Regions from separate parts of the Homo sapiens genome. Here regions 2 and 3 are each linked to region 1. The links come from fine-mapping of genetic effects on gene expression. A gene starts in region 1. Each other region holds a variant in brackets. All regions are shown on one strand. Distances are from middle to middle. Region 1 holds the start of IGSF10 (immunoglobulin superfamily member 10). Region 2 holds the start of AADACL2-AS1 (AADACL2 antisense RNA 1). Region 3 has its middle 15 kb from the start of LINC02066.

Evidence for each region. PIP is the estimated chance that this variant, and not a neighbour inherited with it, causes the effect.
Region 2: its variant is the best candidate, but not a certain one, in a credible set for the expression of IGSF10 in fibroblasts (GTEx, PIP 0.75).
Region 3: its variant is the best candidate, but not a certain one, in a credible set for the expression of IGSF10 in blood mononuclear cells (TOPMed, PIP 0.73).

Annotation. Positions count from the first base shown.
Region 1 is chr3:151,454,812-151,464,994 of GRCh38, reverse strand. It overlaps IGSF10 (immunoglobulin superfamily member 10), which reads left to right and starts at 3,934. Exons shown (of 8, transcript NM_178822.5): 1 at 3,934-4,049; 2 at 4,648-4,734; 3 at 6,285-6,479; 4 at 7,840-7,969. The coding sequence starts at 6,286.
Region 2 is chr3:151,921,425-151,931,607 of GRCh38, reverse strand. AADACL2-AS1 (AADACL2 antisense RNA 1) reads left to right here and starts at 3,433. Exons shown (of 3, transcript NR_110203.1): 1 at 3,433-3,751. It overlaps LOC107986047 (a long non-coding RNA gene), which reads left to right. Exons shown (of 3, transcript XR_001740567.1): 3 at 932-1,056. The variant A/G (reference allele first, on the strand shown) is at 8,246.
Region 3 is chr3:151,531,596-151,541,778 of GRCh38, reverse strand. It overlaps a transcript of IGSF10 not described here. Among named protein-coding and RNA genes, the nearest start is that of LINC02066, 15 kb to the left of the region's middle. The variant A/G (reference allele first, on the strand shown) is at 5,696.

The sequences.
Region 1 (10,183 bases):
TTCCAAAACTGTACCCATACATGGTGTTCTGAAAGCTCTGAAAGGTTAGAGATCTGGAATACTATATATAAAGTCTTCAAGTCATGTAGTTTGACTTTAGTTGGTTGAGTTGCAACTGTATTGGAAGAAAGATGATACTGATTTTCTTTCTACCTCCTTTTCCTGCATTATGTCTCTTCATGGCACTTATCACTTACCGTGCTAGTCTGTAACTTCAAAAAAGGAAGGGCTAAGATGTCAGTCTACTTCACTGCTATTGGAATCACTCAGTGGAGGTCTTGACTGTTTGGTTAATTGAATAATATGAAAATTGTGGAGCTGGGAGGTGGTAATGATTGTGCCTGATTAAAAGATATGTAACAATTTTGGCATTTGGTTATCTGTTGACACATATATAAGTCAGTTTTAAAATTCATAGCTTGTTCTGATTGTCAGGTGATCTATGACTTGTAACTGCTTGCGCTTGGTTGATTGGTGTTAAATAAATACTCTGATTAGGAGGGTGATGTAAAGGATGGTATGGATGATAAATTAAGGATGAGGAGTAAGAAGTAGTAATTACTAGAAAAGACAGCAAATAATGTCAAAGACCTAGAGATGAGGGGAAATGTAATTCTCAGGGGTGATATAAAAGGTGAAGAAGATGTATATTTATTGTCGTGTTTACTAGAAAAAATACAAAGCCTGAGAATTTACCAACAATACTGTTTAAGAAAAGAGTAACAAAAAGAGGGGGAGGATTTAAAGAAAATCATTAGGTAAAACTATAGTGAGAGGTAATTAAAATGTCAAACCATCCTTAAAGCGTAGGTAAATTACCGTAGTCCAGGAAACACAGGTTTAGGAGTTCAGATTGACAATTAACTCAGAGTCGCTATGCTCAGCTCTGAGATCTTGGCAAATTATACACTCAATTAACTTCTGCAAAATAAAGTTACAATTACAAAATAAAGTCATTATCATTGAATTTCATATATTTCTTATTAAATGAGGCCATGTTCAAAGGTGAAAGTGATTTGTAAACCATATGAATCTATAGAAACATATTGCATTATTAAGCATGGTTAGAAAAAAGAGTGGTGAAACTTTTCTTTGATATGCTGTGGACTCTCCAAATTTTATAAATAGAAGCAGGAAGAAGATAGAAAATATAAGGCTTTTTTTGTATTTTTGTAGAGACGGGGTTTCACCATGTTGACCAGGCTGGTCTCAAATTCCTGACCTCAGGTGATCCTCCCGCCTTGGCCTCCCAAAATGCTGGGATTACAGGTGTGAGCCACTGCGCCCAGCCATGGTGGCATGTGCCTGTAATCCCAGCTACTCAGGAGGCTGAGGCAGGAGAATTGCTTGAACCCAGAAAGTGGAGGTTGTGGTGAGCCGAGATTGCGCCATTGCACTCCAGCCTGGGCAACAAGAGCAAAACTCCGTCTCAGAAAAAAAAAAAAAAAAAAAAAAAAAAAAAAAAAAAAAACCAGAAAATGTAAGGCTTAAAAGCATTGGTTTTACAATTTTAAAATTAATTCAGTATTGTATTTTGGCTCTGAATCATTTAGCATTCTTTATCCTCAGCAATCTCATCTGAAAAACTGGTATAATTTTAGCACTTACTCATCAGAATATTTCTGAGAATTAAGCAATACATATAAAGGCTTTGACACATATATACTCTAACTATAAAAGTAATTACAAATATTAGAATTGTTATTAAGTGGAGCAAATGGAACTAGAATTGGTGCCAATATGACTCAGGTTTCTAATAATTCTGGAAGATGACATGAAAAGTAGAAAATACGTCAGAGAAGAGCTCTGACATAAAGCAATTGTAGAGATTTATCTCATAAAAATTCTTAAGAGAAGCAAACATTCCTATCAGGAGTTCACTTTGAAATTGATAGCAAGAAAATGACCCCAGGTAACAAGCCTAGGAAAATAAGTTTAACATGTTGCTGTCATCTTTCTGTGGTTCATCCTAGTTGAGGTCTGGAAGTCCAGACCTGGGTTAGAAATTGACTAAAGAATACGAAGCCATGAGGTTGGTCACCAAGGAGCTTTGGGAGAAAGATAAACTGTGGCTGCCAAAACCCGACAAATATGCCACATTTCCAAAGCAAGCATCCAAGTTTGGACATCACGTGAATTTTTAATTTAAAAGAATCTTGTCAGCTCTGCAGAGCTAAAGACCATGTTCATATACATGCTTCTAGGGTTACTTCTAACTCTGAGTCTCTGATTCTATAATTCTACTTTGGTAACTGACTTATTACTAACCATAAATCACATGAATGCTCGGCATGGGATATGGCACATTATCCATGTTTAGCTAAGTGAGGCAGCCACAACTTTATGGTTAAACGTTCAGACCATAGGGCAAGACTGCCTGAGTTTGAATTAACGGCTTTTCTACTCACAAGCCACATGGCCTGGAGTTCTGTCACTTTCCTTCATGTACCTTACTTGTAAAATGGGAATAACATAAATACTTTCCTTTTAGGCTTTTTGGTGCTATGGTGAGGCTGAAATGAGTTGGTATTTGTAAAACATTTTTCAGAAGTTATTTCACTAAACCAGCAATTCTCACATTGTAGCTGCATCAGAATCATATGGAAGGCTTGTTAACACATGGACTCCTAAGCCTCCTTCGTACAGTTTCTGAATCAGTGGGTCTGGGATGGATCCCGCAAATTTTTGATCTTAACGAAGTCCAAAGTAATGCTGATGCTGGACCCGTGACCCTATCTTGAGATCCACTGCCCTAAAACATTCATTGCAAATTGTCATCAAAAGCTTAAGTGCTATGTAACTACGTGGAAGGAAACAAGGTCATTTTAGTTATGTTAACTCAGTGTTTATGAGTATTGGGAGCCCCACCAAGAATTGCAGGAGATATTACATGTGGGCAAGTTGGTAGAGGTGATTCTGGAGGCATCTCTGCCTCCAGATGGTAGGGTTGGAGATGAGAAAGGAGAATGTAATCCAAGCAGAAATAGTAGTATTTAAATCCGGTTCTGTGATAATGATTTAAAAGAATTCCTCTGAGACATCTATATACGATGTAATATTGTTTGGCAGTTAAAAAACAAAAGGGAAATATTGCCATTTGTCACACATGGATGAACCTGGAGGACATTATGCCAAGTGAAATAAGCCAGAAACCAAAAGAAAAATAGTGTATGATCTCACTTATATATGTGAAATCTTTTTCTAAAAGGTCGATTATACAGAGATAGAGAATTAAATAGTGGTTATAGGGGTTGGAGAAAGGAAATGGAAAAATGTAGATCAGAGAATACACAGTAGCATACATTTATATAGATCTAATGTGCAAGAGGACTATAGTTAATAAAATTGTATGGTATTTGGGATTCTTGCTAAAAGAGTAGATTTTAGCTGCTCGTGTCACAAAAACAAAAATGGGGTAACTATGTGAGATGATGGATATGTTGTTTCACTATAGTAACCATTTTACTATCTGTATATAGCCCATAACATGTTGTATACCTTAAATATACGCAATATAATTTACTTATTTTTAAAAGAGGGGTTTAAATAAAACATTGACACTGCAGGTATCACAGGTCATTAACGCTAACTTAGCCTTCAAATAGAACTTTGGGAGCCACAGGACCAAGGACAGCCTGCGGCGATTTACGTAAACCCTTAAACCAAAAGGCCCACCTGTCAACAGGTGGAAGAGGTCAAGGAGGAAATGAACGGGCGGCCACTGAAACTGCTCTGCCACCCAGCCAGGACCTGCCAACTTGCTAGGAGAAAGCCCTGGGAATTTAAAGAGTGAAGCCACGGCGAATTAGCTTCCCACACGCTCGTAAACATAAAGAGGGGCCCGGTGGTCGTTTCTCATCCTTGTGCTGCTGAGCCCCGGCCGCGTCCCCAGACACAGAAGTCGGGCTCATCCCCCGCCCTCGCTCCGCCTTCCTTCCTTCCCTCCCAGAGCTCCGGACCAGCTCCGCACGACCCCAGCAGCTGAGCCCGGGACCGAGCCCGGGACCTAGCCCGGGCAGCTCGAGCCCATTGGTCACCAGGGCAAACAGGTGAGCGCCTCGGCCAATCCTTCCCCGGAAAGGGCTGGAACCCCACGCCGGCTGGGGCTTGGCGTGGGAATGGAGCGAGTACCGTGGCTGCAGAAGCGGGCGCTGGGGCGGGGAGGGCTGAGGGTGGGGGAGGGAAGACGCACCCGGAGAAGGTGGGGGCATGAAAGCACACGACAATTCTTCGGTGACTGGTGCCAGGCAAAAAAAAAAAACACACACTGAGGAAAGACAATCAATAGATGGAGACATCTGTGACAGATTTGTCCAAAAAAGACAATTTGAGGAGAAGCTCTTGGGACTTTGGAGCAAAATGGAGTGATTAGTAGTAGTTAATATTCAAGTGATAACTTTAAGGAGTATTAAGTACACTACTGAGGGAGGAGAAAGGAAATTTAAAAACCTCCACTTAGCCTTTTGTTTCTGCAACAGCAAGCATCATAATAAAAGAACGCTTCTGGGTTAATGTGGTTATGAGTTATAGAACTTTGAAGCTGTGGAAGCGGCTCCAGGTCTCCCTGAAGAGCATTACTCCTGGCTGTAAGCCAAAAAGAATAAGGCTTTTTGCTCACTTTGGAGCAGAGAACTTTTCCTCCCTCAGGTTTGGACACAATTTTCCATTTCCTGGGAAGATTTTCTGTCTCTGCCTATGTCACAAGAGGACTCAGGACCTGAAAGAAGAGCTCAGGTATTGCCAATTCCTATTTCATTATGTACATTTTCAGCCTTACGTTTGTGAGAATCCCTTATTCATGTGTTGTCTTATGCTATTGATCCTCTTTTAAATAATTTGAACGTGGGCATACCCAGAACTTTTATTTAAGCTGAACGAGAGAATTACCTTCATCCTGCTGTTCCTTCCTTTGTTTATCTAATGATAAGGTGGAAATGCTGTCTCCAATCATACAAAGCTTATTTAAAATTATTGTAACCAGGTGGTTACGATGGCAAAAGTGGTCATATGATTAATCCTATCTTAAATTTTAATTTGGACTAAATTATAATAATACATCCATCATCTTTTTATCTGTATGAAAATCCAAGCAGTTCAGCCCCAGTGTTATTTCTCAGTGTAGTTTGTAGCTAAAGGGTGGTTGCTGGTGGAATCCAACATCATGCTGTTCCACAGAACGGTGGGATTTATTACAAATTATGAAGGTCATTTTGCTTGGAAAAGCACAATAAAGAGTTTATTTCAATCCTGCATTTCAGGAGAGAATTAGGTTTGAATTCCTGGGCTTGCCCCACATATGGGTAACAGATACCATTTTTTTTTTTCTGACAAGCTGAGCATATTTCTTCCCTGGTTATGCTCCCCACCTCCTGTGGCAGCCATGAGCTGGAGGAGGGACCAAGGAAAAAGGCAGAGAGATGTCCGAAGCTGAGCAAAAGCAGACAGCATCATGCCTGCACAGGGTCAGCATGGCTCAAGCCCTCTCAGCTGGTCAGTCGCTGTTGCTTATGGTCATTACTTGGCAGTGAAGTGTTCAATGTGTCTTTTTTTTTGGCAGGGACTTGAAAACCGGTTAGAAAGAGATTTATTCTCCCTTCCAGTGGATTATTACAACCTTTAAAAAATGTTTCTGAAGAAGGTTTAATAAAATGAAAAAACATTATATATGAAATGATAAAATGTGTTACAAAATTGAGTTTGATCACATGTACACATATACACGTAAATGTATGTACACCTATACATATACACACAATAGATGAAAAAGGCTGGAAAGGAATACAACAACATGTTTAAGGATTATATAAGTGGTGAGATTGAGTAATTTTTTTCCTTTTTACTGCTTAATTACAGTTTCCAAATGTTTTATTATGCACAGATATTACTGTTATAATCAGTTTCTTGAAAGTTACTCTAAAAGAATTAATGTATATAAAGGAAACTAAATTCTATATATTTTAGTTGTCACAATCTTTCTTATGGTTTCCAGTTTCCCTTTTAATGAATGCCTGAGTAATAGGGATTGCTGGTTTTCATAAAGAAGTGAGAAGCTGTGAAGAAATTTTCACAACAGTAAATATCCCACTTGATCATAAAGCGCAGTGTGAGGCCAGCAGCACACACTATAGTTTTGTAAAGAGTGCATATGACCACAAAGGGTAGGAATGGAATTGACCACTTACGACCCTTAAAGAAGGTCTCCCAGATTCCCAGAGTGAGTGTGTGGTGGTCCTGGGACTTTGCTCCACCACTCTTTATAACTCTGAGGTATGATGTTTTTTCAGGATGAAGGTAAAAGGCAGAGGAATCACCTGCTTGCTGGTCTCCTTTGCTGTGATCTGCCTGGTCGCCACCCCTGGGGGCAAGGCCTGTCCTCGCCGCTGTGCCTGTTATATGCCTACGGAGGTACACTGCACATTTCGGTACCTGACTTCCATCCCAGACAGCATCCCGCCCAATGTGGAACGCATCAATTTAGGGTGTGTGAGACCTCATGTTTCCTCTTCTCAAAGAGGGATCAGTCGCAGCAGTGACTTGTCCCTCAAACATCTATGACTTTGGGAGATGAATCTCAATTGTTTTAACAATATTTCTTTTCTGAAATGAGCTCATGAGAATTTTGTTTGTTGGGGGCAATAAGAAAACTTTTCCTGGTAAACTTTTATTAGGAGAAAGTTCTTCTAGAATTTGAAGTCCCTCTTGGTAGGTTGGGAGACTCATGACGGTAAAAAGCTTCTTTCTGGCTACATTTTTGCTGGAAAATGATATAGTTTCTGTTAACTATTGGGGTTATGATCATTCATCATAAGAGATGACAGGGTAACTGGAAGTGTCTGCCTATATAATACACACACACACACACATACATACATATATATATATATGTATCCTTTTTATAGGCCCTTTGGTTTCTTTCCATACAAACTTATTTAAAATGGATGCCTAATTAAATTTTTAAAAATATGACTGTATTTTAAACGTTCATGAAAAAAAAGTCTGTGTGTGTCTGAATACACATGTTGGACTTAGCATCGTTTATTTGACATTAGTGAGCATGTACTATGCACTGGGGATACAATGGTAAGATATACTATTCACTTCTAGGATGTGTATTGATCGTTAAAAAGACCAGACAAATGTACGGTCAGTACAATTAATAAAAACTAATAGAGCATACAAAGTGTTTTAGAGACAGTCACTAATATTAAGAGCTAACATTAAGGTTGTGCTCAGTAGGTGCTGGCATTGGGTTAAGCACTGCATCCATTTAATCCTCATAACCCCTTTGGAGTGAGTTCTATTATTTACATTTTATAGATGAGGAAACTGAGGCACAGAAAGCCTGCTGATTTTACCCAGGGTTGTACCACTACTCTGTTGAGCCTGAGCTCGTAATCATACCCAAACGAGACGCCCAAGCCTGGCCTCCAGAGCCCAGGCTTCTTAACCACTGCTGACGAATTCCACCTGGGGGAGTGGTGAGGAGATAGTGTCATGAAAGAATGGGCTAGATATTAAGTGTTCACAAATAGAAAAAGGTGAGGTCAAGGGCATTCCAACCTGAGGGAACAGCATATATATAAAAGTTTGAAAATGATAAGAAATGTGACAAGTTCCCAGAATATGAGGGGGGTGATTGTAACTGAAATGGCAAGAACTGGGTAGAGAGCCGACCTTCTGTGGCATCTGGTGAATTTCAGTTTTTGAAGCATTTGATTGTCTCAATAGAGTACAGTTATAAAGAGAGGTATTGAGTTTTCTTGTGTTTATTTTGGTTATGACATTTGAACTTTAGTTGACAGACTTAGCTTATGCCTAGAATGTCATTTTTTATTTCAGATACAACAGCTTGGTTAGATTGATGGAAACAGATTTTTCTGGCCTGACCAAACTGGAGTTACTCATGCTTCACAGCAATGGCATTCACACAATCCCTGACAAGACCTTCTCAGATTTGCAGGCCTTGCAGGTGAGACTGATGGAGAGAGGGGGCAGGTTAAAGAGGTAAGGTGGGACCTGTGAGATAGACCTTCAAAGGCTGCCTATCTCTACACAATACGAAAATCAACATTCTGTAAATTAGAAGCAGACGTCAATGGAGAATGTTAACTGATTTTTAACTGTGGAACTGTGTGTATAAATTAGAATAATAAGAACTCTGAGGCAAGTTTTCTACTACCTCAAGCTAATAGAAAAAAAATCAATACCCAGAGACGATAAACCTTCAAAATTTAATCCTAAAAGGACACTTCTAGTCATGTTTATCTGGGAATTGAATGTGGTTCCTAAAAGTAATGACTATCTTAGACAGATAATAGTTTTATATAAATCAATGTACTATTTTCAGTTTCATTTTATTTACTTATTCATGTTCTACATTGTTCAATTTTTTAAAGTTAAGAGGACTCCCAAGAATGCATAAAATCATGCAAGAATGATCACAAAAGTAAGTGAGAAAGTAAAAGGTAAAATAAGCCTAGAGAAAAGAATAAAGGGAACATGAGGAAATGCATACATAGAGACCTTTAAGTCTGCTATAAGTAGGACTTGAAGCTTTCAAGACGCTAACAATACATGACATCTATTAAAACTTAAACTGTTCAGGAAAAGCACAGCCATGTATGATTTTTAAATCAGAAAGAAATGTCTTACAAAGCTCCTCATAAAATACAGTGCCATAAAATAAAGTCAATAATATCCTTGTAAAAGATGAAGTACCTGTGTTCATAGAGCCTTCTAACATATACCAGAGCTATGTAAGGGAGGTTATAACCATGGTGAGAGCAATAGAGTATAATGTAGCTATGTGATTCTGTTGATTTGGTTAATCAGGCTCTATTTGGAATGTATGTCTTCGGAGGAATAGATGGATTGCATGTCCTTTATAGAATTCTCTACATATATTTATTCTCTCGACCAAATTTTCAATGGCTGTTGAGGAACATTGAGTTGGAGATTGAACTCCCAGGTTACATTTGGGGCAAAGCTCTTCTATGTTGCCAACTTATATTTTCTTTTCTTATTAGGGGTCTTGGCATTCTAGAGAAGCATTCTCGACAGAGATGATAGTTCAGGCCAAGTCAGGAAAATATGATGAGAAATGGTGTTTACTAGCATTTCTTTTTTCTTTATGGGAGAGAGTATGTTCAACTGGTAATTGGAGAGGGAATTGGAGAATACCTGAGCACTATTGAAATATTCAAAATTATTTTAATTGCAACTCAAAATTAGTCATATTACTCATAACCAAAAAGTATAAGACACCTCTTAATGTCCATCAACCAATGATAGATAAAGCGTTGTGCATGTATACAGTAGAATACTATTCAGCAAAGAAAGGAATGAAGGGCTGATACATGCTATGAGAGGGACAGGTCTTGAAAACATTTTGCTAAGTGAAAGAAGCCAGACACAATGCCATAAAGTGTATGATTCCATTTATATAAAATGTTTAGAATAGGCAAATCCATGGAAACAAAGTAAATTAGTGGTTGTGAAGGGCTAAGAGGATAGGAAAAAATGACTGCTAATGGGTATTAGTTTTTATTTTAAGGTGCAAAATAAAGTTTATTAGAAACTTTAGGCCGGGCGCAGTGGCTCACACCTGTAACCCCAGAACTTTGGGAGGCCAAGGGGGGGCAGATCACCTGAGGTTGGGAGTTCAAGACCAGCCTGACCAACATGGAGAAACCCCATCTCTACTAAATAATACAAAAAATTAGCCAGGCGTGGTGGCACATGCCTGTAATCCCAGTTACTCAGGAGGCTGAGGCAGGATAATCACTTGACCCAGGAGATGGAGGTTGTAGTGAGCCGAGATCACTCCATTGCACTCCAGCCTGGGCAACAAGAGTGAAACTCCATCTCAAAAAAAAAAACAAAACGCAAAAAAGAAACTTTATTTAGAAGTTTCTAACAGTGGATATGGTTGCACAACTCTATGAATATACTAAAAACCAATAAATTGTACACTTTTAAATTATTTTTTTGAGACAGAATCTTGCTCTGTCACCCAGGCTGGAGTGCGGTGGTGCAATCTCAGCTCACTACAACCTCCACCTTCCAAGTTCAAATGATTCTCATGCCTCAGCCTCCTGAGTAGCTAGGGAGTATGTGTGTGTGCCACCATGCCCGGCTAATTTTGTGTGTGTATATGTATTTTTAGTAGAGACAGGATTTCGTC
Region 2 (10,183 bases), 470 kb before region 1:
ACTCCCTAATAATGAAGGACCCCTCAGTAACTATGTAGTTGGTTATCTTTTTAAAGGGTTGAGTGGCAAGAATTGTCAGTGAATGTTGACTTCATTTTTCTCACTTTGCTTTCGGTGATAAGATGCCTTTTAAAGCAAACACTATTCAAAATTTGAGACAGAGTAAAATTATTAAGTCTGGTCTTCCAAATCATGTTCTCTCTATGAAAATATAGAGTCACAGGACTCCTGGCCCTGTGTTTTTATGAGTCATAGGATTTCTATGGTGAAAAATAAAAGATGAATAAACCTAAGATCTGAGAAAAATAAAAAGAACCCCTTCAATACAATGTTATGTCATGACCAGGCTCTCTGTTTTTGATATATGTATGTGTGTGTTTATAAAGAAAATTTTTCAAAAAATTATTTTGTCTCATCTTCAGAGCTTCTTGGGTTTGTAAAAAATTAGATTAGAGGAAGTAGCTGGCAAGTTAGGCATTAGAAACCAAAGCCTGCCAGTGCCAGACCAGGCATGGTGGCTCACACCTGTAATCCCAGCACTTTGGGCGAAGGTGAGAGGATCACTTGAGGCCAGGAGTTTGAGATCAGCCTAGGCAACACAGCATGACCTTGTATCTATAAAATATTAAATGAAAAAATATTTCCAGGTGTGGTGGTGCACGCCTGTAGTGCTAGCTACTGGGGAGGCTGAAGCAGGAGAATTGTTTCAGGAGTTTGAGGCTGCAGTGAGCTATGGCCATGCCACTGCACTCCAGCCTGGTTGACACAACAAAACCCTAGCCCTTAATTAAAAAAAAAACAAAAAAACAAAAAAGCCTGCCAGATGATGCCTATGATTTCAATGAAAATGACAACAGGAGTAACCTTAATGATGCAGAAACAATACAGTCCTGGCTTACCAAGTGCTCTTGTATCCACTTTGCTTTAACAGAGCAAATTTTTATGAATGAATCCAGATGGCTACTCCAGTTGCCTTCCAGCATATGGACAAAGGTGAGAGTGATTTTTTCTGATATGATATTCTGCTTTCTAGTTGGTGACAAATATTTTACCCCTTGAGATGAATTTTAAAATCTTTCCCTTGGCCAGGTGCGGTGGCTCACGCCTGTAATCCTAGCACTTTGGGAGGCCGAGGTGGGCAGATTGACTGAGTTCAGGAGTTTGAGACCAGCCTGGGCAACACGGTGAAACTCCATTTCTACTAAAAAAGAAAAAATTAGCCAGGCGTGGCGGCGTGCACTGATAGTGCCAGCTACTCGGGAGGCTGAAGCAGGAGAATTGCGAGACTCCATTTCCAAAACAAACAAACAAACAAACAAACAAAAAAACCCATTTCCCTTTCTGGATCAGAGCACAAATGATACAATTTTTAAAAAATACCTTGGTTTTCTTTCTTGTCTGTTTGCACAAACCTGCTTTCAACCTCATGATTGTTTCTTCCAATTGAGATCTGATTGGCAAAGCCACAGACTAAGCCACCTAGTCTCCCCCTTTGATACTGTCATGTTTTAGTTAGAGAATATCAAAAAAGAAGGGACCTTAAGATCACTTGGTCCAACCCCTCATTTGTAAGACAATGAAACAGGAGCAGAGAGGTGAAGGGTCCTGTTCAAGGTAACATGGCAAAGTAGTAACAGGTTTGGTTTAGATGTAGCAGAGGGGCTCTTTCTTCTACATTCTTTGGGTTGTGCAGCTTCTTCCTTTTTTTTAACTGTTTATTATATAAATGTTGTTTAAAAGTGGCCATTTTTTCCTTTTCTAACTGAATAATATAAACATGATATGTTAGGCTGATATCACTGGTGGTGGTGGCTGCCTATCACATGCAGTCCCTTCCTTTCTTGGGCAAGGAATGGGGTAAGGAATTATCCATTACTTTCGGTGTCCACAAAAGTAAGAAATGATGGGCGCTTGCTTTTGCAGATTTTGCAGTACCGAGGATAAAGGCATATAACCTGCCAGGAAATCCACTCTAGAGCAAGTGATGCAAAGATACAGGGACAAAGGAGATTTTTGTCCCAGTGCAGGTAGCAGAGACAAGAGTTCCAGAGTCTGAACAGTGCTGGTGACAGCGCTAATGACAGGCAATGTCCGGGGTTGGTAGGGGCAATACCTGGTATTCTGCAGTGCGGCCATAATGTTTCCGGAATTGGTGGGTTCTTGGTCTCACTGACTTCGAGAATAAAGCCGCGGACCCTCGCGGTGAGTGTTACAGCTCTTCAGGTGGCGCATCTGCGTCTGGAGTTTGTTCCTTCTGATGTTCGGATGTGTTCGGAGTTTCTTCCTTCTGGTGGGTTCTGTGGTCTCGCTGGCTCAGGAGTGAAGCTGCAGACCTTCGCGGTGAGTGTCACAGCTCATAAAGGCAGTGCGGCCCCAAAGACTGAGCAGCAGCAAGATTTATTGCAAAGAGTGAAAGAACAAAGCTTCCACAGTGTGGAAGGGGACCCGAGCGGGTTGCCACTGCTGGATGGGGCAACCTGCTTTTATTCTCTTATCTGGCCCCACCCACATCCTGCTGATTGGTAGAGCCCAGTGGTCTGTTTTGACAGGGCGCTGATTTGGTGCGTTTACAATCCCTGAGCTAGACACAAAGGTTCTACACGTCCCCACCAGATTAGCTAGATACAGAGTGTCCACGCAAAGGTTCTCCAAGGCCCCACCAGAGTAGCTAGATGCAGAGTGTCGATTGGTGCATTCACAAACCCTGAGCTAGACACAGGGTGCTGATTGGTGTGTTTACAAACTCTGAGCTAGACACAGAGTGCAGATTGGTGTATTTACAATCCCTGAGCTAGACACAAAGGTTCTCCAAGGCCCCACCAGAGTAGCTAGACACAGAGTGTTGATTGGTGCATTCACAAACCCTGAGCTAGACACAGGGTGCTGATTGGTGTGTTTACAAACCTTGAGCTAGATACAGAGTGCTGATTGGTGTATTTACAATCCCGGAGCTAGACATAAAGGTTCTCCACGTCCCCACCAGACTCAGGAGCCCAGCTGGCTTCACCCAGTGGATCCCGCACCGGAGCTGCAGGTGGAGCTGCCTGCCAGTCCCGCGCCGTGCGCTCGCACTCCTCAGCCCTTGGGTGGTCGATGGGACTGGGCGCCGTGGAGCAGGGGGTGGCACTTGTCTGGGAGGCTCGGGGCCGCACAGGAGCCCATGGAGGGGGTGGGAGGCTCAGGCATGGCGGGCTGCCGGTCCCGAGCCCTGCCCTGCGGGAAGGCAGGTAAGGCCCGGTGAGAAATCGAGCGCAGCGCCGGTGGGCTGGCACTGCCGGGGAACCCAGTACACCCTCCGCAGCCGCTGGCCCGGGTGCTAAGCCCCTCATTGCCCGGGGTCGGCGGGGCCCGCCCGCTGCTCCGGGGGCGGGGCCCGCCAAGCCCACGCCCACCCGGAACTCCAGATGGCCCGCAAGCGCCGCGCGCAGCGCCGGTTCCCGCTCGCGCCTCTCCCTCCACACCTCCCTGCAAGCTGAGGGAGTGGACTCTGGCCTTGGCCAGCCCAGAAAGGGGCTCCCACAGTGCAGCCGTGGGCTGAAGGGCTCCTCAAGTGCCGCCAAAGTGGGAGCCCAGGCAGAGGAGTCGCCGAGAGCGAGCGCGGGCTGTGAGGACTGCCAGCACGCTGTCACCTCTCAATAACGCCCATCCCAACGTTTCCTGAGGAATAATTTTGGTCGTGTTCCTGCTACTCAGCTTTTCGTGGTTCCTGCTCATTTTCAGAGTCTAACATTCCAGCTTTTCCGGAAATTCTGTGAGTATACAACAAACTTTGACAATTCCTTTTGGATTTAACTCATCTGAAGTTAGTTTTGGTTATACTCAGTGAAAAATTTTGGTAGTAGTTACATGGCTCGAATAAAGAAAATAGACTTTGCTTTCTGGGTCTGGGAATAACCAGTGAACATCTTTCTGAGCATCAGTTTCTCATGCATAAAATTTAGGAAAGAAAACCTGAGGGAGGTTAGCTGAATCACTTCTCTGCTTTGCAGAGTCAGATTCTATAAGAAAATGTTATAACATGGAGAAATTTGCCCTTTTCTGTTCTCCTCAAGCCCCCAAAATATTTGTCTTCTGATAAAATGTAAGGAGAAAGAAGAGGCAATAAAAGCAGAAAATGAAAAAAAAAAAAAAAGGCCAAACAAATCTTTATTTTGTTTTGATAGAAGCCCATGAAATATAGCAAGTTGGTTTCAATTTTCTGAAGCTTTGCACAATCAATTAGTTAATCTTAATCACTGCCTATGGAATTCAAACATGCACAATTCCAAATTTTTACACATTCTCATTCATTAAAATAAAGGCAGAAGCCAGGCGTAGGTAGAGTGATATTTTTATGAAGCACAAGCCTTGTAATTTTCCAACATCTGTGGGGAGTTAAAAAACAATCGCTACGATCGCTTCAGTTGCTCTGAAGCTGGTAATATGTGAGTCATGTTTAGGTGCTTTCTGGGCCCTACAAAATCATCAGATAGATTTTCAAATGTGTTTGCAGTAAGAGCCGCACCTCTTTTTTTCTGGGCATGGAAAAACCATGTAAAATAGATCTCAAAGAAGCCAGCATTGTAAGCAACAGGCACATAGTTTATTTTTAGAGACTGGGTTACCATTAGCACATATTTGGACACTTTTTAGTCTGACTCAAATATACAAAAAACACTTTACTAATCATTTATAGAGCAAGTTCGCTGTCTCCACCCTACCCAGAATATAAAATATAAAGATTCTAATAATAGGGGTACACTTAATAAATGTATTGATGGGTGTTTCTCTTTCAACACAATTAATTTGCCCTAAGCAGTGTCTAGTTAATGAGGTCTTAAATTGTCAGAATAAATAGGTGTGCTCTGCTCTAACTTCAACACGAGGCCATGGCAGACATGGCTCTTTTCAGCTACCTAAGTTTACTTTCAACCATTTTCCTACCCATGCAGTGTCCCTTTACTGAGAATTGGTCGTGGACTTCCAGCTGTCTGTTTCCTCCCGAAGAGGCCAGCTATCTTGCTGCACTAATGATTCCTCCTTTGTTGGAAGCTGACTCTATACTAATAAAGAACTGCTGGCAAACAACTGTAATTAAGAAATTTAAGCTTGAGAGAATTAGGATGAGGCAGTGTAATTCCTCGTTATCTTTGAGCATTTTTGGAAGGCATGAGGTACTTTTTGTTTCTGGTTAAAACCGAAGGAAACATTGAATAAATTCCTGCCTTCCACATAATAAAAAAAGGTGTATATTTGGACAGGCTTTATTCTTAGTAGTCACTTCATTTAGATCCTTACTTTTAAAATGTTTCTAATAGGGAAAAAATACTTTCATTCAACTTTTCAAACTAAGAAGTAAGATGGCTGTGTCCCTGAAAGATGGTACATTTATTTAAACTAAAGTTTTACATACATTTAAGTTATACATGACTTGTATCTTATTATTTTCTGAAGGTGGGTTAGGATAAAAAGAAAAGAGGTAAAAGAAAAGAACATTAAGACAAGAGTTTTAAAAAAAAATCTCAGGAGTCTAGTAGGAAGCATGATTCATCCATAAAAAACCATGAGGCAAACAAGTCTTTCAGGAGGGAGCTGTGAGCTGCCTTGAGGCTTATCCACTAGCCACACAGAGGCTGGAGCTGTAACTTTTGTTTTAATGAGGGTTTCTTGGTCAGGCTTAGGTTGACGTCCAAAAAATACATCGGGGAAATCTTGGCAAATAGAAATTCCAGTAGGACTTTTGTTTATGGTCTCTCTTTACTTCTAGTATGTGAATTCCTCGAGGGTAGGGTGTTATTCACTACTAGATCCCTAGCACCTGAAAAGTACCTGGTGCCTGAAAAGGACTGAAAAGGGCAATTATAGGAAGGGAGGGAGAGAGGGAAGGAGGGAACAGAGAAGGAACGGTGTTCCATTGAGACCCCCTGGAGGAAGAAAATCTGGGTTGTGTGGCTTTCAGTAGTTCAATGAGCACATAGCTGTCTTTAAGCCTCCACCTGTGGTGTGTACAGATTCATAACACCCCAACGGCGCATGGTTATGAGATCACCGAAGCCACATCCTCTAGGTTGACAAAGTTTATCCCAACATGCTCACTCTCTCCAAAGCTCTCTCTGACTTTTAATTTACCTGCCACTACTTAATTTCTCCTTCTTGGATTGCTTTGATATTTGTGCATCTCTCATTATGCTGCACTTTGACTTGTATTTGGCTGCTGGTTCTCAACTGAGGTCCTACCTTTATTCCTGAAATTTACCACAGGGCCTGCAACTGGCCTTTAAGCACCAACTCTGCACAAAATCTGTGACTACCTAGGTGTTTCAGGTTGGGCAGCAAACATTTATTCTCAAGTATTCCCCGAGTCTGGTCACTGCTTGACCTTGCCGAGTCCCGTGTTCACAATGTTGTCGAAACCTGTGGGTGAGATTGAGTCTTCAGAGGAAAGAACTAAAGAATTCACGAGGAGCTAGCAACAGCAGAGACTGACTGAAGGGGAAGAGAGTGGAAAGAAAGGATTCATGGAATCTGGGAACACAGAAAAGGGAATGGGAGTGAAAAAGCTCTATATACTTTAAAGTCTGACCCTGAAGTTGTCCCGTTGCGAGTGCTGACTGTACCAGCCTGTAATACATTTAGAGAGATGCACAACTGTGCAAACAAAGCAAATTGCAAACCAGTTTTAGTAATTTCTCAATAAAGGGATTACCCTGTAATTCTCTGTGAACCTCCTATTTTGCAAGCCCAAAGGGAAAACAGTTTTTTCTAGACACATCTATTATGCTTGTCCCTCAGCTAGCAATAAGGGATGCTGCCCTTGCCTTCAAGTCCCTGCTGAGCACCACAACCATGCTCAATATCCTCATCCGTAAAATATGGTCAAAAGAGTGTCTGCCTCACACATTGTAATTGGGATTAAATGAATCAGGTCTAGAGTGTTTAGGAGATTGTCTGGTACATAGTAAGCATCTAAGACGTGTTAGCAATAATATTGACAGTAATGATAAGAGATGACATGATGGTGATTATGATGGTATTAACACATCATTGGCTGTGACTGATTGGACAAGTAACGCTTTTATCCAAAGGCTACCAATCCAGAAGCTGCATGTTGTCTTACAGTTCCTCTGGCTGGTTGCAAAAGATGAGCTAGGCCAGAGTCCTCTCAAAAAACCAACCAACTGTGGCCAAAAAAGTCATAGGCTGGGATGGACATTGTGTGGCATTGTGAAGGTTAAAATTGGGAGGCAAAAAAGTATTTAAAAGAAGAGTGAGTAAAAAAGAAGAGACATTGTAAAAAAAAAAAAAATCACTAAGAAACAGAGACACTTAGTAAGAGAGCCCAGAGTACCCAGCCAGCCCCTGCCTATCTTTTAATTCTGCTAGTCTCACTACCAGTTTCTTAAAGGTCTCCTAGATTCCAACCATAACACTCAACTTTTAGTTTTAAATTCATCTGGGCTTGAGTATTCTTTGTCTCTTGAGCCTAAAGAATCCTGACTAGATTAAAAAATACTTTTTATAGCACAATTAATCATACTACAAAAATGAGTCAGATATCATCTGGCTGCAAGACTTCCTTTCAACTATCGTTTACAAATTTTAAAGCATAGCAATTATTGCAAACACTGATGAACAGATTTAGCTCTGTATGAACATTGGAATTTCCATGGATAGGCATCCTATGCAACTTTATTCTCTAGGCCATTATAAAGAGATTCTTAAATGTCAGTGATAAGAGCCAGTAACTGAAGTAGCAGAGGAAAGTGTCAGGGAGTGCAAACTCAAATGTCTATCGAGAAAATTCATGCATATACTGGGTGTAATACAATAGAGTGTGGTAGGAATTTTGCCAAAATAAAGAGGTCTGCCATCCTGCACTCCTCCCCAAGACAGACATTTCTCTTAAGATCAGTCTTCTCTTGATGGGTGGAAATAAGTTCCCAGTTAAAAAAGCCAAAAATGTAGATTTTTAAAATTGAAAATCTTCTGATTTTTAAATGTTAAAAACTGATTTAATTTTTTCTAATAAAATATCTGACCTCCCAAAAAATGTATCTACAGAACAAACTTTATTTGAGGCTGCCAGTTTCTGCCCTCTGATATAATAGCATGGGAAATAGTCTATGGTAAAGAACCAGATGGTATACAACTTATCATATTTCCTAAATCCACATTCTACTCTGGTTATACTGTAAAAAGACAAGAGAGAGGAGACTTTAAGACTTTTTGTTAGAGGGAAATAAAAAATGCATATCAACATTCGCCC[A/G]AAAGATTCAAAAAAGTCTTAACATTATGATCACAAAATTGTGGATCCTGGTGATTAATAATGCATACATATATTGGGATAAAGTCACGTGGAGTCCTCCAGGACACCTGTATGTCATTTTGCAGTTGTCCTCCCCATCATTTACATTTCATCAACAATATCTAGGAAATCATAATATGTAGGTAATTTTCAAAACTTAAAAAAAAATTTCTAAAAGATTAGGATTAAACCCTTGGCTTTGGAGTTGTATTTAAGCATACTCTTTGATGATGGAAAGAAAGTAGTTTAAGTGATGTACATGTATATTTTAGTAGCCCTGGAATAATGTGTTCTAGGTGTTATTTAAAAAAAAAATTCATGGCTAACCAAATTAATTGAAATAGGATTGACTAGATTTGGTTTGGTTTTGATGAAGCACAAAATGTTCTTTAAAGAGAAACTTCACCGGATACAGGGCACAGCTTTCAAATCATAATCCAGTGACAGTCTTCTTTGTATCTACTGTAATTGTCCTCATTTATTTTCAAAGGACTACTTAGACACCTCTGTGAAATGTCAATCTATTATATTCCATCTTTTGCTCTAAGTTATTCAAATCTAAAGCAAAGTGTTTTTAATGGAGAGATTACCTTCCTTCCACATCCTCTCACTCAAAACTTGTCCATCTAATAAATGCCAGAGACAAAAAGGTGAGAGATTCAGTTACTGCTATTTAAGAACTCTGGATTTAGTATGAAAAAGTGCTTACTACTTCTAGTGTTAGCCCCACCATCTAAAAAACTTAGAAGTCGACCGGACGTGGTGGCTCATGCCTGTAATCCTAGCACTTCGGGAGGCCAAGGTGGGCAGATCCCCTGAGGTCAGGAGTTCAAGACCAGCCTGGCCAACATGGTGAAACCCCATCTCTAATAAAAATACAAAAATTAGTCAGGTGTGGTGGCACACACCTGTAGTCCCAGCTATCAGGAGGCTGAGGCAGGAGAATTGCTTGAACCTGAGAGGTGGCGGTTGCAGTGAGCCGAGATCATGCCACTGTCCTCCAGCCTGGGTGACAGAGCGAGACTCCGTCTCAAAAAAAAGCTTAGAAGTCATCACTCCTATCCTTAAATAACAAAAAGCTGAAGAAACTAAGAATCAACAACTGTTCTTAGATCTATCAAAGAACTAAGGTTTCAGAGCAACCTGCCACTGAAATCTGGACAGGCAGTGATAGGCAAAATAATGGCTGAAGAGAAATCCAAGTCGTAATCCTTGGATTCTATGAATATGCTATATGACAAAGAAAAGAGGAATTAAAGTAGTAGATGGAATTATGGTTGCTAATCAACTGATATTTAAACAGGGAGATTATCCTGCAATATTAGTTGGACCCAATATAATTATAATGGTCTTCAAATTTGGAAGGGGTAGCAGAAGAGAACTATTGTGATACCAGTTTGAAAAGTGCTTGGCCTTATATTAATGCATGGAAAACGCAAGAAAATGAATTCTCCCTTAGAGCATCCAGAAGGAACATAGCCCTGCTGACTAATTGATTTTAGCTTGATGTAAACGATTTCAGACTTCTGACTTCTAGAATTTTAAGATAATATATTTGTGTTGTTTTAAGACACCAAGTTTGTAGTAATTTGCTATAGTGGTCAGTAGAAAAAGAATACATACGTGAATCCAGACAGTCACAGTGGAGCAACTTATCTGGAGCAGAAGCCATTAGCACCATAAGCTGGCAGAAAAACTAAAATATTAATTTTAACAAATTCCTAGAGGTTGAGTATGGATTATTTGAGAGCAAAAAACTCCTAGAGGTCCCAATCTTAGAGAGGCTTCAACAATTTTATGGGTTTTTACCTCTGGGAACCCCTCCAGGTTCTCATGGTAAATATTCATGAAAGTTTCCCTTGTGGCACTAGCAGGGGAAAGAAAAACTAGTCAATGTAA
Region 3 (10,183 bases), 77 kb before region 1:
CACATATGTATGTATATGTATTTATGTATTGTACTTCTGTATGTCCTCGAGAGAAGGAGGAAAAGATGATGAATTTCATAAGACATGAGGAGGTATTAGTAAGATGAAATAATAAAAAATAGAGATACTACAAAGAAAAAACTAAAACATATGCAGAGAGAGAGAAGCCAATTTATCAAAAAGGACAATATAAAATTAGAAATATCAGCCTCCTAAAAGAATAGTGTCAACTTTAAAATACAACCATGAGCAAACCTCTAAAAGTACTTTGTTTACTCAGTAATGTGTTTAAATCTCATCTATATGACTATAAGAAAACTGAATTTATGGCCTAGCAAATTAAACAAAGAACTTTAGTGTGCTAGCTAATCTCACTGACATCAAATTCTAAAATATGATTTTTTTGACATGACTCAGCTCTGTATCATAACAAATTTTACTGTTTTGTTAGCCTCCCATATAATGTAAAGATATACTGTCTTGAAGTCATTCTACTTCAACAGACACATCTGACTTTCTGCCATGAAGTTTGTAAAATATGTTTTAGATAACTGTGGACAGTCAAAAACATGACTGATGTAGGAGAAACTGATAGTTTATGAATCTTACTGCTAATCACATCAGATGTAATGAACTTAATTAAACTACTGAGGTTTTGAGGGTATTTTAAGGTTTGTTTTTTTAACCTTAAACGGAATCATTTGTTCCATACACACTATACAAACTTCAGCATGATTTCCACTATCTGGAACTGAACTCCCTCTGATGTCTCCCCTCTGCAGTTGTTCCAATAATTTCTTCTGTAACCTTCACACTTAAAATGTAGATGGTTGTTCAGGGTTCAACAGTGAAAAACTGAGGAGATCCTCAGAGAGCAACAAAATTACTAGTGGATCTCCACTGTGGCTCTGAAAGTTCCTTTTGCCATGCAAGGTATCATATTCACAGATTGCAGGGATTGGTTCGTGTGCATTTTCGTGGGGGACTAGGCTTGTGAGGATGTAAAGCAACTGGAATTTTTGTACACTGCTGGTGGGTGTATAAACTAGTAAACACTTTGGAAAACTGCTAACATCCACAAAAGCCAAACAAATACATACCCTCTGACCCAGCAATACCACTGTAGGCATAGAGTCAACAGAAGTACATAGATATATGTGCACCAGAGGTACGAACAAGAATGTTCACATCACTACTATTTATAATAGCTCTAAACTGTCAACTTCTCACAGGCTATCAAAAGTAGAATGGATAACTACACTGTGGTTTAGTTACACACTGCAGTACAACACACTAATGAGAATAAATGATCTGCAAATATACACAATAATATGGATACTCCTCAAAAAAATAATGTTAAGCAAAAGAAGCTGGACACCAGAGTACATACTGTATTACTCCATTCATAAAAAGTACAATGCAGGCAAAATTAATGTATTATCTTAGAAATTCAGGTAAACTTACCCTTGGGTGAGGGTGACCAGAAGAGAATAATATAGATCAGAAGAAATGGTAATGTTCTGTTTTTCGATCTAGTGTTGGCTACACATGTTCAATTTTTGAAAATTAACTGAGCTGTACACTTATGATATATACGCTTTTCTGTGTTTATTTCATACTTCTATTAAAAAATTTAAATTATGTTATTTGGTTGTGATGGGTGAGATTTCTTTATGACAATTAATTGAGGGATAGGCTTCTGATTTGTTCATCGATTTAGAAAGTCTTCTTTCACTTCCCACCACAAAATGACACCACTGACGCCCAGCTAAGGGGATGAAAAACTTATTTAGGTTACTTAGGCTCGGACTAAGGCCAGTTCTGTCAGAAGCCTCTCACTACAAATTCCCTCCCTGCACCTCTTGTTTCTTAGATGAATGGATGGATGAACAGACAGACGAATGACAGACACACACAGAGATGATAGATAGACAGATAGATAGATGATAGATACAGATAGATGATAGATAGATAGATAGATAGATAGATAGATAGATAGATAGATAGATAGATGCTGTTGAAATAATGCTGGGTGAAAGGATTACAGCCTAAGAATAATCATCAAGGATCACTCTTCACTATCTATTGAGAGAACAACCAGCTGGGTGTTGGAGGTGGGGGTGGTCGGATTACAGATTCATATTGATACAATGAGTTTCAAGTGACTATGACACATTTTTTTCTGCATCTCCATTTCTTAACTGTAAAAAGAGGGAAAATATGTACTCTGCTTGCCATCCTGAGTTTGGGAAGAAGATGAATATGTAAACATATTTTAAGCCAAGATGTGTTAAAAGACCCTTAAGTAGAAACAATGCTCCACTCCTCTGGTTTTTCTAAGCACCAGTTTCTTGTTCCGCCCTTAACACTCAAACACTCAGGTGGAGTGAATTCGCCTATTTGATGAATTTAAAAGAAGGAAGAGGGCAGTCATAGCTAGCTCCTCTCTTCCCCTTCCTCTTAAGAGCGGCTATGCGAAAGTTCACGTCTGCATCTGGTCTTCTCTCGGGTTACAGAGCAAGCCTCCACGTGGGAAGCAGAGCGTTTGTCTGGACTGCTGTGACTTGTGACTCTTCTGTAGTCATGTGTAACATGTGGACTCCGCTGGAAAAAAGCAAGGATTAAAGTAAGTCCCTAATTCTAGGGATCTGTATTTGCAGGTCTAGCCTTACCAAAATCTAGGCCCCTTTCCAACAGCAATGAAGCTGATATTTTGATCGCCATCTGCCAGAAATTTTTGTTCCTCTTCCAGTGTTTTTAAAAACACAGGCAAGAAAAAAAGCTGGCTCTTTATCGTGCCTCTTCAAATGCCCACAGAAACTGAAGTATTATTGTTATTGGGATGTGTTTTCGTTTGCTGGAGTAACAGTTCTCACAATGCATGTTTTGTTCTAAAACCTTTTCTTTTTCCCTGAGCCCTTGCTGCCTGTGAAACAATTATAATGGTTTTAAGGGTCCAAGATTTAACTTACATTCTTTATGTGGGGCTTGTAAATTCAACTCAACATTGTTCTGTGACTACTACATGCCAGACACTGCGCTAGACTTGGGGGTTGAAAGAGTAATGTTCTTAAAGCAATATTGTGTCCTGGACATTTTAAATTAAATTTCTTTATGGAAATTCTGCTCGGGGTCTGATGTCAGCAGTGTTAATGGAAAAACAGCATCAAAGTCTTGGTGATTGTGTTTGTTTAAATATTGGAACTAGATACCCTTTTTCTCACTTTTATATTCCAATGAATAATCCGAAGACTTACATTTCTCATTCTACTTAGGCTGTGGTCTTACGTTTCTTCTACTATTACTTGGCTGTGAAGTGAGGTATTTAACCATTTAAACCATTATAATGTCCTTATTTAAGTGAGAGAGAATTAAAAACCAAATGAAACAAGCACAGACCCACAAAAAATCCAGGTCCTTCTCGTTATAAAAAGGGCAACAGCCTTTTTAAGCTTTTAGTTAATAATTAAAGAAATATATTAAGCAATAATGAGTGGGCAATAATGAACTTCTATGGGCTTTGTGTTTCTGGTGTTATGGTGGTCCCAGGAGTGACCCATCACAATTCTAAGAAACCTCTAAGAATATCAAATATGTTTATCAGTGAAGTCGCAGAATGAGACTTTGACTCTGCATCTGACAATTAGTAGGTCCTTCTGAAGACCCTTAACTAAACGTGAAGTTTGGCAACTATTAAGAATCCCACAATTTTGATCTCTGCCAAGTCGTAGACCCAGGAAAAGTGAGGAGTGAGTAATAGTCAGAGGAATCTGAAACTGAGGAAGCAGGAGGGCTCATGAGAGGGATCCTAGCTGCTCTGAGGATTTCAAATCTTTTGGCCTAGCTAAACTACATCTTGGGGAACAGAAAGAACGTATGTCTATAATTACTGAACCACTGTGGGTAATTACTGGGAAACCATGGAAAACAGGAGAGGTTCCAGGAGACTGAAGGATGGAAAATGTTGCTCCAATTTTTAGAAGGGAAAGAAGGTAGGTTTATTGAATTACAGATCAGAGAGCTTGACAAAAATCCTAGAAGAGATTATTATTTTTTTTAAGAGTCCATGAACACTTAGAAGAGGAAACAGTGATGACTAAAGTTAGAATGCCTTTGTCAATAACAGGCCATTACAGACTAACTTCACTGCTTGGTTTTTGACAGTGTGGCTAAACTGGTGTATGAAGAAGGCATAGTATAAACCCTATTTCGGTTAATTAGTCAAGTGCTTCATCATAGCATCATGTACATGATGGGGAAAAATGAACTAGATGGTAGAACAATTGGCTTTGAATGATTTAATGATGTTGTCTCCATCTAAAGAGTGCAGACTTGCCTAGTGACAGGCTATAGTTCTTTCTTCTCGGCCTCAACCTCATCAATATTTCTCTATAATTTTGACAAAAATCAATAGCTTGTTATTCTCTTCAGACTTCAGGGGAAAGTCACAAATCTTTGAGCATCTGTCTACCTTTGAGAGAAAGTAACCCAAGCTGATTCTTTACTACCTATGTTGCTATGACTCAGTGCTATACGTATTGAGTAAATCCTACACTCCTGCTCTAGCCACAACTGATTGGCCAAAGTAACAATGCAAGATCAAAGCAAATACTAATGTGCCCAACTTTAGGGAGGCAAAAAAATTGCCTTTGAGATGGCTTACCCAAAAATTTTTCCCTCACAGTCCCCCCATATTAAATCCTTGCAAATCATCCCAAGCAAATATTGTTATTGGAAAGAATAAATGCTCGAATAAAGAACAAACTTAAATTCTGTAGTTTGGGGATCTCACTCTTATTGGGCCTGCTGTTTTAAAAGCAACAGGACCTAGAATAATAGTTCTTTCAATACCCATCAGCCAAGGTAATTTGCCTGTGTCTTTCTGATATTAAAAGGACTGGTTTATCACCTGCATATCAAATTTAAGAATCAAATTATGCTAGAAGTAGTTCACATAGTTAATGTGATGTATTACAGAATTAAGACTTCAAAATATTGGCCCATATTAAATTAGTGGGCCAAATTGAACAAAATGAACTTTAAGGGGAAAAGTAAAGAGAAAACAAAATCTTTTTTAGCCTCTAGTCAAATCTGGTACTTTAGATTCGGCATTTTTTTGGTGAACATTTTATTGTTAACCTTGGTTAACAGTAACTGAGGTTAAGCTTTACAGTAGAATCAGGACAGATTTACAATGCTAATGAAACTTAAGCTTCAGGATCCCTTCCTTGCATGGACCCTTTTCAAAGCTGTCATGTAGGGCCACAGTGATAAGGTTGCCAAATAAAATACAGGATGCTCAATTAAGTTTGAATTTCAGATAAACAATGAATAACATTTTCACTTAAGTAGGTCCCAAATAACAAATGCAACCTACATTTTTATTTGCTAAATAAACTCTACATGGGAAAGAATCATCAACCTCAGACTGAGGGTCACCCTCTCTGCCCTCGTGGTGGTCTTAGATCCGTAGGTGGAGTTGAGAGGCTGCCAGTCCTACCTTCACATCCACGCAGCCCAAGTGACAACCTTGTCCCAGGGGACCTCTTGAAGTATCCAGACTTTGACTCCAAGGAGAAAGGCACAAATGAGATTTTTTCCCTGCTTCCTGCTCAGAAGTCAATGCTAGACTTCATGGCATTTCACCACCACCTCCCATCCCCTTAATCCCCCTAGGACTAGTAGCCATGGTGGG[A/G]CAGGACACAGTGGCAGCTAGGACCTAGCCAACCTAGAAATTGCAGCTTCCAAAGAATATGAAGACTGAGATCAAGGGGCTGCAAACATATGAAAGTCTGCCCCTGAAAGTAGTGCCATCTCAGCAAGAAGCTGCAGCTGGAGCTCCATGTACAGGATTACAAATAATAAACAGTGAAGTTGAAAGAAACTGCGAAGCCATCAATTTCAAAAATGAGTTTTGCTCTATCATTCTAGAGGAAAGACTTGATTATTTTTCTATTCTCTTTATTGAAAATGTAAGACTTGTGACAGAATGAAGCAACCAAAGAAAATGCAGCCCAAAAAAGTTAATTTAGAGGCATGTAAGCAAATAATTAGAATTGAAAGATTTCCTGACTTGCACTATTTGTAATACCTACCATACTTTATATATATGTAATTTATTGTAAATTCTAATTCTAAATATGAACTTTTATATCTTATTTTAAATAAAATAATTTTAACTTTTATTTTAGATTCAGAGCATACATGTGCAGGTTTGTTACATGAGTATATATAGTGATGGTGGGGTTTAGGGTACGATTGATTCCTTCACCCAGGTAGTGAGAATAGTACCGAATAGTTAGATTTTCAACCTTTTCCCCTTCTAGTAGTCCCAGTGTCTATTTTTGCCATCTTCATGTCCATGAGTATCCAGTGTTTAGTTCCCACTTATAAGTGAGAAGTATATTATTTGGTTTTCTGTTTCTGCATTAATTCGCCTAGGATAATAGCCTCCAGCTGCAGCCATGTTGCTGCAAAGTATGTGATTTTGTTATTTTTTTTCTTTTATTTGGGATTTTTTATTACAGCCAAATATCCTCAAAAATAAGTTTCTGTGGTGGCCCACATTATAATACCTCTACTAGGAATAAAATAAGGGATGATAACTAGATTTAATAGTTATTGTTTTTGCACTGTGTCAGATGTTGTTACCATTTGAGTTACATTTTCTCATTTAGTTCTCTCAAAAACCTTTAGAGATAGTATCATCTTTAATTTTATAGATGAGAAAACTGAAATGTAGATAGCTTTTTTTTTTAATTGCCAAAGATCACACCCATAGAAACTGATAAAGCTGGTATTGGATCCCTTATCAGTCTGACTCCAAAGTTCGTGTATGCTTGTAACTACTGTGACAGAACAGTTGGATGGAACTACATTTTTCATGCATCCAGTGAAGGTGATTCTGTAGTTTCCTCTAGATTCCTATAACCCTGCCCAAACCTTCATACACACACACACACACACACACACACACATACACTTTAAATTCTGGGGTACATGGGCAGAACGTGCAGGTTTGTTACATAGGTACACACATGCCGTGGTGGCTTGCTGTACCCATTGACCCGTCATCTACATTGGGAATCTCTCCTAATGCTACCCCTCCCCCAGCTCCCCACCCCATGACAGGCCCCAGTGTGTGATGACCCCCCTCCCCACCCATGTGTTCTCATTGTTCAACTCCCACTTACGAGTGAGAACAGAAACTTGTTTGGTTTTTTGTTCTTGTGTTAGTTTGCTGAGAATGATGGTTTCCAGCTTCATCCATGTCCCGGAAAAGGACATGAACTCATCATTTTTTATGGCTGCATAGTATTCCATGGTGTATATGTGCTACATTTTCTTTATCTGGTCTATCATTGATGGGCATTTGGGTTGGTTCCAAGTCTTTGCTATTGTGAACAGTGCAGCAATAAACATACATGTGCATGTGTCTTTATAGAAGAATGATTTATAATCCTTTGGGTATATACCCAGTAATGGGATTGCTGGGTCAAATGGTATTTCTAGTTCCAGGTCCTTGAGGAATCACCACACTGTCTTCCACAATGGTTGAACTAATTTACACTCCCACCAACAGTGTAAAAGTGTTTCTATTTCTCCACTTCTCCAGCATCTGTTGTTTCCTGACTTTTTAATGATTGCCATTCTAACTGATGTGAGATGTTATCTCATTGTGGTTTTGACTTGCATTTCTCTAATGACCAGTGATGATGAGATTTTTTTCATATGTTTGTTGACTGCATAAATGTCTTCTTTTGAGAAGTGTCTGTTCATATTATTTACTCACTTTTTGAAAGAGTTGTTGTTGTTGTTTTCTTGTAAATTTGTTTAAGTTCTTTGTAGATTCTGGATATTAGCCCTTTGTCAGATGGATAGATTGCAAAAATCTTCTCCCATTCTGTAGGTCGCCTGTTCACTCTGATGATAGCTTCTTTTGCTGTGAAGTAGCTTATTAGTTTAATTAGATCCCATTTGTCAATTTTGGCTTTTGTTGCCATTGCTTTTGGTGTTTTAGTCATGAAGTCCTTGCCCATGCCTATGTCCTGAATGGTATTGCCTAAGTTTTCTTCTAGGGCTTTTTTGGTTTTAGGTCTTACGTGTAAGTCTTTAATCTATCTTGAGTTAATTTTTGTATAAGGTGTAAGGAAGGGGTCCAGTTTCAGCTTTCTGCGTATGGCTAGACAGTTTTCCCAACACCATTTATGAAATAGGGAATCCTTTCCCCATTGCTTGTTTTTATCAGGTTTGTCAAAGATCAGATGGTTGTAGATGTGTGGCGTTATTTCTGAGGCCTCTGTTGTGTTCCATTGGTCTATATATCTGTTTTGGTACCAGTACCATGCTGTTTTGGTTACTGTAGCCTTGTAGCATAGTTTGAAGTCAGAGTGATGCCTCCAGCTTTCTTTTAGCTTAGATTGTCTTGGCTATGTGGGCTCTTTTTTTGGTTCCATATGAAATTTAAAGTAGTTTTTTCCAATTCTGTGAAGAAACTCAGTGGTAGCTTGATGGGGATAGCACTGAATCTATAAATTACTTTGGCCTGTATGGCCATTTTCACGATTTTGATTCTTCCTATCCATGAGCATGGAATGTTTTCCCATTTGTTTGTGTTCTCTCTTATTTCCTTGAGCAGTGGTTGGCAGTTCTTGAAGAGGTCCTTCACATCCCTTGTAAGTTTTATTCCTAGGTATTTTATTCTCTTAGTAGCAGTTGTGAATGGGAGTTCATTTATGATTTGGCTCTGTTTGTCTGCTATTGGTGTATAGGAATGCTTATGATTTTTGCACATTGATTTTTGTATCCTGAGACTTTTCTTATCAGCTTAAGGAGATTTTGGACTGAGATGATGGGGTTTTCTAAATATACAATCATGTCATCTGCAAATAGAGACAATTTGACTTCCTCTTTTCCTAATTGAATACCCTTTATTTCTTCCTCTTGCCAATTGCCCTGACCAGAACTTTCAATACTATGTTGAATAGGAGTGTGAGAGAGGGCATCCTTGCCTTGTGCCGGTTTTCAAAGGGAATGCTTCCAGTTTTTGCCCATTCAGTATGATATTGGCTGTTGGTTTGTCATAAATAGCTCTTATTTTGAGATACATTCCATCAATGCCTAGTTTACTGAGAGTTTTTAGCATGAAGCGCTGTTGAGTGTTGTCGAAGGCCTTTTCTGCATCTATTGAGATAATCATGTGGTTTTTATCATTGGTTCTGCTTATGCGATGGATTATGTTTATTAATTTGGGTATGTTGAACTAGCCTTGCATCCCAGGGGTGAAGCTGACTTAATCTTGGTGGATAAGCTTTTTGATGTACTGCTGGATTCGGTTTGCCAGTATTTTATTGAGGATTTTTACATCAATCTTCATCAGGGATACTGGCCTGAAATTTTCTTTTTTTGTTGTGTGTCTGCCAGGTTTTGGTATCAGGATGATGCTGGCCTCATAAAATGAATTAGGATTCCCTCCTTTTCTATGGTTAGGAACAATTTCAGAAGGAATGGTACCAGCTCCTCTTGGTTACTCTGGTAGAATTCGGCTGTGAATCCGTCTGGCCTTGGACTTTTTTGTGGTGTTTGTAGGCTATTAATTACTGCCTCAATTTCAGAACTTGTTATTGGTCTGTTCCAGGATTTGACTTCTTCCTGGTTTAGTCTTGGGAGGGTGTATGTGTCCAGGAATTTGTTCTTTTCTTCTAGATTTTCTGGTTTCTTTGCATAGAGGTGTTTATAGTATTCTTTGATGGTAGTTTGTATTTCTGTGGGATCAGTGGTGATATCCCCTTTATCATTTTTTATTGCATTTATTTGATTCTTCTCTCTTGTCTTCATTAGTCTTGCTAGCGGTCTATTTTGTTGATCTTTTAAAAAAAACCAGCTCCTGGGTTCATTGATATTTTGAAGGGTTTTTCAGGTCTCTATCTCCTTCAGTTCTGCTCTGATCTTAGTTATTTCTTGTCTTCTGCTAGCTTTTGAATTTGTTTGGTCTTGCTTGTCTAGTTCTTTTCATTGTGATGTTAGGGTGTCAATTTTAGAACTTTCCTGCTTTCTCTTGTGGACATTTAGTGCCATAAATTTCTCTCTACACGCTGCTTTAGATGTGTCCCAGAGTTTCTGGTATGTTGTGTCTTTGTTCTCATTGGTTTCAAAAAACTTACTTATTTCTGTCTTCATTTCA